Linked DNA regions of Homo sapiens. The protein of the gene in region 2 interacts with the protein of the main gene of each other region in a pairwise test. Each region holds a gene or a part of one and is shown on either strand. Other genes may lie near its edges. The genes, in order: FBXO42 and TPP1.

Region 1 (4,330 bases), on a different chromosome or scaffold from region 2:
CCATATGGAGGGCCCTCAGTAGGTGGTTCATAAATAGGAATAATCAATTTTACATTTACCTTTTATTTTACATTTTACAAAGCACTTTCACGAACACTATCTTTTCTGATCCACATTAACAATCGTGGGAAGGGCTTTATTTAATCAAATGGCTTCTGGTTTTATAAAGAGTTAATTCAGGGCCGGGCGCAGTGGCTCAAGCCTGTAATCCCAGCACTTTGGGAGGCCAAGGCAGGTGGATCGCCTGCGGTCAGGAGTTCAAGACCAGCCTGGCCAACATAGTGAAACCTTGTCTCTACTAAAAATACAAAAAATTAGCTGGGCATGATGGCAGGCACCTGCAATCCCAGTTACTCAGGAAGCTGAGGCAGGAGAATCGCCTGAACCGGAGAGGTGGAGGTTGCAGTGAGCCGAGATCATTGCACTCCAGCCTGGGAAACAAGAGCAAAACTATGTCTCAAAAAACAAACAAAAAGAGTTAATTCATTGACTAAAACAATTCTGAAATCACAAAGATAATTACGTATTTGTTCATCTTTGAGATAGCTTCTCCCTGGGACCTCAGTGTTCTCATAAAACTCAGACGTTTTGTTAGCATTTTCTTTGCTTGCTCTCCATAATAGGTAGGACTCACCCTGCTCTGAATCTTACTCAGGGTTTAAACCACATAAAGCTGTTATTAAAGACCCCTCTAGAAATCAGACAAGAAGAAGCATCCTAAGCTATTTTTTTTCTGATCCTGTTCTTTTTGTAACTAAGGTAAGGAATTGCAAAGGTCAAAATCTGGAGAGCAAATGATGTCATGGATGTCATGAAGTTGCATCAATACCTGATGATGATTTAGCATAACAGTGCAACATATTATGCCAAGAAGCATAATGATGAGCCACCAGGATGTTTTACTGCATTAATTTCATGACTCTTTATTAGCAAATTGATATGCAAAGTAGCTCTCCAATTTTCTACCACAGAGAAGCTGCTGGTTCAGATTTACATCTTTAGCAAAGACACTAAGAAAATCGACAAATTTCTATGGAAAAGTCTTTGATTTAAAAATAGAAAAGGAGGCTGGGCACGGTGGCTCAAGCCTGGGGTGGGGCAGGGTATCGCTTGAGACCAGGAGTTTGAGATCAGCCTGGGCAACATCGGTGAAACCCCGTCTCTACTAAAATTACAAAAAAAAAAAAAAAAAAAAAAAAATTAGCGGGCGTGGTGGCGCACACCTGTAATCCCAGCTACTCAGGAAGCTGAGGCAGGAGAATCGCTTAAACCCAGGGGATGGAGATTGCAGAGAGCCGAGACTGTGCTACTGCACTCCAGCCTGGATGACAGAGTGAGAAACTGCAAAAAAAAAAAAAAAAAGAAAGAAAGAAAGAAAGAAAGAAAGAAAGAAAGAAAATGGTCAAATAATAACCTAAACAGTTGTCATTTTAACAATGAAAAGCTTTTTAAGATACGCAACATGCCTATGGATCAATGTAGATTGAATCATCTATTTATACTGGCTTGTCAAAAGCAAACAGTTACTGGGTATAAAATGACAACATACAATAGAAAAGACACCCAATCAGATTACACACGTGAATACACTCAAAGTTAGCAATTTAACACAGCATCACTAATGGCCATAAGATATACAGACTTAATTCTAAATATTCAATTCTAAATGATGGTACTTCCCCCAAATTTTCCTTGCCTCTTTAAATCCATGATGTCATCATTCTTAAGCAGAAGTAAAGCCAATTTGTTACAAAAGATATTTTGGTGTGTCCAAGCAAAAGCAATCGCCTCAACAATTCTGCATAGCACAAGTTCAGTGAAGCCATCATTCCTCAAGAAAGAGACCACAAGGCTTCAAACCGACTTCCCTACATGACAGAAACACAATCGAAGTCTCCCAATTAGCATTTAAACAGCAATAAAAGTTGTTCTCAAAAAGGAACAACATAGTTTCAACGTCGGGGCCAGCAACTGCCAGCAAGTAAAACTGGTAATGTGTCAGAATCTTCATCTAGATCGATCAGAATCCCACCACAGAAAAATCCAGACTCTGGCAATTAAGAAATGAGGCTTTTATTTTCCTAACAGAAATCGGGAGATTTAACAGACAAAGCAATTGGTTATTCTGAATCTTAACAAACCGAAGGTTTCAAACGAACTCAGCGCTGAAGTTACTCTGCAGCGACCATCAAGATCTCACAATCGTTTTCTCTTCGCTTACAAATTCGTTCCCACCCTCCACCGTTCCCTTTGCACACACAATTCTCGCCAAGAGAAGCCTTCCACAGTCACAGCATGGATTGCTGTCTCAAGCAAGGAGATCCGCAGTTCCCATTTCTCTAAGGGAACACTCAACAAGCTAGGGGATAGGAAAGGCCTTTTGTGTTTTATTTAACGTAAACCAATTCCAAAATTATCCCTTTGCAGCTGCAGGTTCAGAGATGCTAGCCCCCAGCCGCAGCCCCAATTTTGATGGGCACCCGACCCCCGACTCCTCTCTCGCAAAGGAGTGAAATGTTCGGAGGAGCGATGAAAGATTACCTGACACCCTAAAGCCATCCTTGCCCGGGCCACACACCCCTTCACTGCCCGGGTGAGGGGACGAGAACCACCCTGCTGAGGAGAGGGGGTGGGTTCGCTCCCAACCCAAGGGCTGGCTGGAAAGGAGCTGTCCTCCTCCTCGCCTCACTCGAGGACGGCGATAGCAAGTCACCCTGCCCAACCAGGACCGACCCCCGCGTGGGATACGGGGCCTGCGTCAGACCCCGGGCGCCCGCTGCCCCTTGCCAGTCCCGGGCATAAAGGGCAGAAGGCGCCGGCTCCCCTCTGCGGCCCGGGGAGGAGGAGAGGCCTCACCTGGCCCAGCCCGCTCCACGCTCTCGGGTTCGCTCCGCTGGCGACGGTAATGAGGGAGCCAGGGACAGGGCCAGAGCAGAGGCGCTCTGCCTCAGGCCGCGACAGCCGTGCTCGGGGCTCCTCACAGCTGGCGGGACCCCGAGCCGCCCGGAGCCGCCATCTTCCTCCACTCAAACGCCGCCGCCGCCGCAGCTGCTGCTGCTCAGGCCGGGAGAAGACAGCGCAGAGCGCGCATGCGCCGGGGCGGGCGCGGCGGACGCGCGCGCACTCACGTCAGCGCGGCGGGATGGCGAGGGGCGGCCAGGGGGCGGCGCAGTGTTGAGAAAGGCCGTGGTCACAGGCCGAGGTTCTGTGGAGGGTGGAATGCGCTCGGGGGAGCTAGGCCTCCGCACCCGCCTTCGCCGCGTCTCTAGCGTCGACCTGATAGCCGCACCCACCCTCCGCTGCACTGTCTGGGGCAACTGGGTGGTTTTCCCGGTGGTTTGAGACTAACATTTAGCCAGGAATTAACTCACTTCTACCCCGAGGGCCCGATGAGCAGAGAGGGCTGTGGCGGATGTGAGTGCTCTTGGATATCGCCAAGGGGAGGGAAACTGTGCTTGAGGTGTGCAGGAGAAGTCTTCCCTTAACCGTAGCCTCGTAGCAACCACTGTGAGTTCTTACTAGCTCCACTTTTCAGATGAGGAAACTGAGGCACAGAAAACGATCACTTATTTGCCCGGAGTCACACACCTATCAGTGGAGGTGGGGCGGCGCGGGAAAGAGGATTTAAACTCAGGCTTGTCTGGTTCCCAAGCTCCTTTACTTCCTACTAGCTAGGTTATAGGATCCAGCAAAGTCCCCCTTCTCAAGGGAGCAACCTGGTGTGTAGGTGAGAACCTTCATGAGCCCAGCCCTACAGCATGTGGTCTAAGGAAATGCCAGATACAGAGTCAAAGGCTTCAGTCTAAACTCTGTAAGCCAAAAAAACAAAACAAAACAAAACAAAAAACTAAGCCCCCACCCCCCCCCCAACACCAAACCATCTGAACGGACTTCCTCCTAGGCCAGGGCAGTCTAAAATGTAACCAACCTGAGAGACTGGTTCAGGCCATGACGGGAAGCAGGACATGAGACATGCCTCATTACATCCTTCAGCATTGACATCAACACAACAGACCTTAAGACTGGTAAGAAACATTTACAATCTGTTCTCTCTGGAGCCCACCTGCCACTTGGAGGCTTCACGTGCGTGATAAAACTTTGGTGTCCACAATCCCTTATCATAACCCAGACATTCATTTCTATTGATAATAACTTTTTTTTTTTTGAGACAGGGTCTAACTCTGTTGCCCAGGCTGGAGTCCAGTGATGAGTTCTTGGTTCGCTGCAACCTCTGTCTTTCAGGCTCAAGCTATCCTCCTACCTTAGCCTCCTGAGTAACTGGGACTACAGGCGGGCACCACCATGCCTGGCTAATTTTTCCATTTTTTTT
Region 2 (4,377 bases):
CCACCCCCTTCCCCACTGTCCAGTCCTCTTGGTAGTACCAGGGCTACTGTAGACCCAGGTGGAGATGTTGGCACCAGCACTCATCAGGTACTGCACATCTAGACTGGCCTCAATCCCGGCCCGGCCCCGGCCCTGTTGTCCAACCACACGGGCTACTGATGCCTGATGTGCAAAGTTGCCACCGAAGAGGCGCATGAACTGAGCCAGGTCTGAGTCATGGAAATACTGCTCCAGGAACTATGGAGGGAGTCAGAGCAGAGATCGTGGGTCCGAGGGTGAGTCCCAGGGTGGTAAGGAATTGAGGACACTGTGGGGAGGCTATGAGGACCCTGGGGCTCTTTGCTTGGCTCACCTGGGCACAGGCTTGGCTGTTATTGCTGGTGCCAGAGCCCACGTCTTGTGAGGTCAAGTTGTATCGCTTACGGATCACAGAGGGGGTTACCCCCAGATGCAGGCCTACAGTCCCTGTCACCTGCGGCTCAGGACGTTGCCTCAGGGATGATGTTGGGGGAAAACGGTGCAGTCCCCCCACTGTAGGGAGAAGTCAGGCTTGAGGAGATCTTATAGACTGTAATGCCCACCTTACAACTCACCCCACCCCCAGTCCCCAATGGCATCTAAACTTCCTCAGCCCCTGGATCTGTGTGCCCCAACCCCCATTCACCCCATAGGTGTTACCAAAGTCCACATGGGGGGCCAAGGCCTGTGGAAGCTGGTAGGGATGTGGGGACCTTACAACATGGGTTTCCGTAGGTCCTCCCACATAGTGATGAAACTCAGCCCCAGGGAGCAGCAGCTCTGCTTGTCTGGAGGTCAGAGAACAGAGGTCAGAAAGCTCAAAACGGAACAGAAGAAGCTACCTCTGAGCATCCCTGGGCAGTCAGTCACTGTCTCCCCATGCATTAGCTCCCACCCACAAGCCCCAGCAAGCTCTCAACTCCCTCCCATCCATCTCACTGATGGGATGACTGGTGCCCTCCATGGAGCAATCATTTCCTCTCACCGGATGCTCAGCCAGCAAGTCAGAAAGTCCTGTGTGATCACAGAATGGCACTTCTGGGCTCCGGCTGCCAAGAGCCATTTTTGCACCGTGTGGAGGGTCAGTGGGGATGGCCTCACCAGATCAGCCACATTCTCTAGGGTCAGGTATTTTCCTGCAGGGATTCAGAAGAGGCACTTGCCCTCATTCATTGCTTTCCCAAACTCCCCCTTTTGGACCTCAACTATGAGACATCAGGACTTCCCAAAGCCTGGAACAGGGTAAAGGAGGGCTATGTGTGCAGGTGTAGGGTGTACTTGGGAAGCAGAGGAAGAAAAGGCTGGAGAGACTTGAAATGCCATGGCCAATAATATGGATTTACCCTAAAGGCCAGTAAGTTGCAAATGTCGCACCACAGCATGTATTGCCATGATCATGAAAATGAATGAGGTTAATACATATAAATTTTCCATTTTAATTTTAAGCTTATGTCCGGTAAATGTTTTCAAATCTTTCGGTACCAGTTATTCAGTTTAGCTCAAATTTGCATACTTGTTGATTTTAAGCTTAACACGATGGTGAGTCACTGTTTCCTGCCATGCACACTAGTGTCACACTGCCCCGTCCCCAGCCTCTGCAGTTCACAAGCACACACTCCCCCTGCTGTGAAGGGCTTTAACCAGGAGAAGGAACCAATCCATTTTGACTGTTGGAGAGACTGTTTTGAAGCAGAGTGGGGGAGTACAGTGAGGGGTGGGGTGGAGGGAGGAGACTGCAGATCAGCTGGGGAGCTGGGCAGTAGTCCAGGAGTGGGAATAAATAACGGAGTTGGTCGTAACAAAAGACGGCAAGAAGGAGATTAATCCAAAGGCTCTTTGGGAGTTAGAACTGGCAGCCTTAGTATGTGAACAAAAGAGGAAATTAGAATGGATTTGAGGGTAGGGGAAGGAACGTAAGTTGTACTAGATGCCTGGTAGCTAGTAAGTAGCAGAGTCAGAATTTGAGTTCGTATTTGATCATAAAGCCTGTATACTGAACCACATCCCCTTTTAGGTTTCTAGCCTGAGGAACACAAGTGTCTTGGCAGGCTCTGACATGATCGCCATCCCATGCCCAACCCAGCCCTGTGTCCCTCCACCGCATCCCACATCCTGTCCTCAGTCCCAAAAGGCACCGTATTGAGGAGAGCTGGGATCCGACACAGCCTGCACCAGCTCCGAGAGTCTTTCCACATTCTGCTGTCTCAGGGCAAAGGTGAGACTCAGCTCTTCCTCAGGGTCCGCACGGCCCAGGGACACCCAGCCTGGGGGCAGCCTGTAGGGTCAGGGGTCAGGGACATGGCTTTGGTTAGGGTGGAGATGGAAAATATTGGTCATGGAAGGTTCCAGATTAGGAGCTGAGACCTTGGGGAGGATCCTAGGAGCAGATACAGATCACATGAGGTGAATGATAGGGGACTGAGGCTAGGAACATAGAGATGAAGCTATGGAGTGCGTACTAGGAGCTGGCACGGGGGTGAGAGAAGCTAGGACCAGGACAGTGGGAGGCAGAACAGGGTATGGGGAAGGGGGCAGTCTGTGCTAAGTCAACTCACGTCCTCCGCTGGTCGGGCTCCGGGCTGTAACTGCATTTGCCAGAGAGGATGAGGGCAAAGAGCCCTAGGAGGCTGTAGGGGCAGCAGGTGGGTTTCAGTGGGAGCTACGTTGTCCTTGTGTTCCCACCCTCCCAATGTGTGCTCCCTCCAACGTGATCCCTTTCTCCCGAGCCCTCTCAATTTCTCACCAGGCTTGGAGTCCCATTCTGCCCTTCCGCGGATCTGCTGTCATGTGACGGATCACATGAGCTCTATATTCCACCACCACTACCCCTCTGCCTAGTAACTAGTGACGGTACTGGCTCCTCCCTTGCATGGGTGGTCCCAAATGCTAGGCAAGGGTGGGGCCGCCACCCGGATTCTCCCCTCTGGCCAGTCAAGCACTGAGTAAGCCCAGGGCTCCCCACCTGCGTCCTGAGCCTGGTCCCCTGGGAATCACCACAAGTGAGTGGGCTGTAGAGACCCACAGACTGGGGTTCTTCCTAGCTGTATGACATCAGCAAAATAACCTCTCAGAGCCTAGGTTTCTGCATTTACAATATGGAGACTTATATAAAAGTGATCTGCCTCGAAAGATTGCAGTGAAAAAATTTTTTTCCTCTTTTATCCTTTATGTCCCCATATTATCAATTTTGTCTTCATTTTACGACTACATTTATGAACAGAGTAAAGCTTTTGCAAGACCAGGATCCTTTTATTCAAATCAGTTTCCAGTTTTAAGTAGCTTCCCAGGAGATCTACAATCAGCTGGGGTCCTGTTTATTATGGGTTCCCAAGGTTTTCAAGGAAATCAACTTTGTTCTAAGGGCCATGGAGGAATCTTGCATCTTGTTTAGTGGGCTCAGGTGGATAAAATGGAAACGGACCTTTGCTTCTTCTAATGGTAACTCAAAGCCCACAAGGAGGTCTGAGTTTACTACTTCCAACTGGGGTCATTACAAGAGGATTTTCAATGAGAGTTAAAACCCTGAGGATTCAATTCCCTTCCAGTCTTCCTTTTTTTCCCCCCAAAAATCCATATGGAAGATGGTGTCAGCAGTGTCATTTTAACTTCCAAAACCATTAATCCAATACTCATGTGAAATCCCTTGTTCTGACCTCAATACTTTTTAGATAGATCCCTCTACTCCTGCTGTTGTCCTACAGGCCACTGGCTTCCATTAACCTATAGATTATATTCCCACACTGAAGATTATGGCACTTCACCTTTCTGTCCATCCCAACTCCTGCGATCATTTGACCTAGATGATCAAAATATCTAGGTAAAAGACCCATTCAACACCCTAACCTTCCATTTCTTCATCTCATTAAACCCAGTGAGCATTACCTTCACTTCACTTAAGCAAACCAGTCCCATGGCTGCATTGGGCTTGCTATCTCTCAAAACTGCTCTACCTTTGAAATTATAATTATAGAATGCTTTCTTAGACTATAACCTTCTGTTTTTTCAAGCCATTGTTTTTCCTCACTCCTATTAATCTGACTTCTCTCTGTCCATTGATCCCTCCAGTTTCCCACTAAGCGTGGATCCTAGAGCTGTATTTACTAGCATCATGCTCAGAAACATTTCCCTTTGACCACAACTTTTTTTTTTTTTTCTAATTTCCTCAATCTCATGAACTTCTCAAACACTGGCCAATTGCCTTTCCCTCACAGCCTGGCTCCCCAAAGAACAGGCAACACCAGTGGTTCCCAAATCCCTTTGTATGACTGTGAAAATTTACACTGAGATTAAGCAAGGCAGCCACCTGCAGAGAGCCTGACATGACAAAGGCTCAACAAATTGAGCTCTTTTTACAATGTG

What was found.
Region 1: the proteins of TPP1 (region 2) and FBXO42 interact in binary tests that used the Homo sapiens proteins (3 or more experiments, as listed by UniProt).

The regions. Positions count from the first base shown.
Region 1 is NC_000001.11:16,349,399-16,353,728, forward strand, and holds the start of FBXO42 (F-box only protein 42), read right to left. Parts: upstream 3,083-4,330; 5' UTR 2,857-3,082; intron 1-2,856. UniProt on the Homo sapiens protein: Substrate-recognition component of some SCF (SKP1-CUL1-F-box protein)-type E3 ubiquitin ligase complex. Specifically recognizes p53/TP53, promoting its ubiquitination and degradation.
Region 2 is NC_000011.10:6,616,623-6,620,999, forward strand, and holds the start of TPP1 (tripeptidyl-peptidase 1 preproprotein), read right to left. Parts: upstream 2,801-4,377; 5' UTR 2,779-2,800; coding exon 2,762-2,778; intron 2,646-2,761; coding exon 2,574-2,645; intron 2,294-2,573; coding exon 2,154-2,293; intron 1,155-2,153; coding exon 1,004-1,154; intron 807-1,003; coding exon 679-806; intron 532-678; coding exon 353-531; intron 238-352; coding exon 39-237; intron 1-38. UniProt on the Homo sapiens protein: Lysosomal serine protease with tripeptidyl-peptidase I activity. May act as a non-specific lysosomal peptidase which generates tripeptides from the breakdown products produced by lysosomal proteinases. Requires substrates with an unsubstituted N-terminus.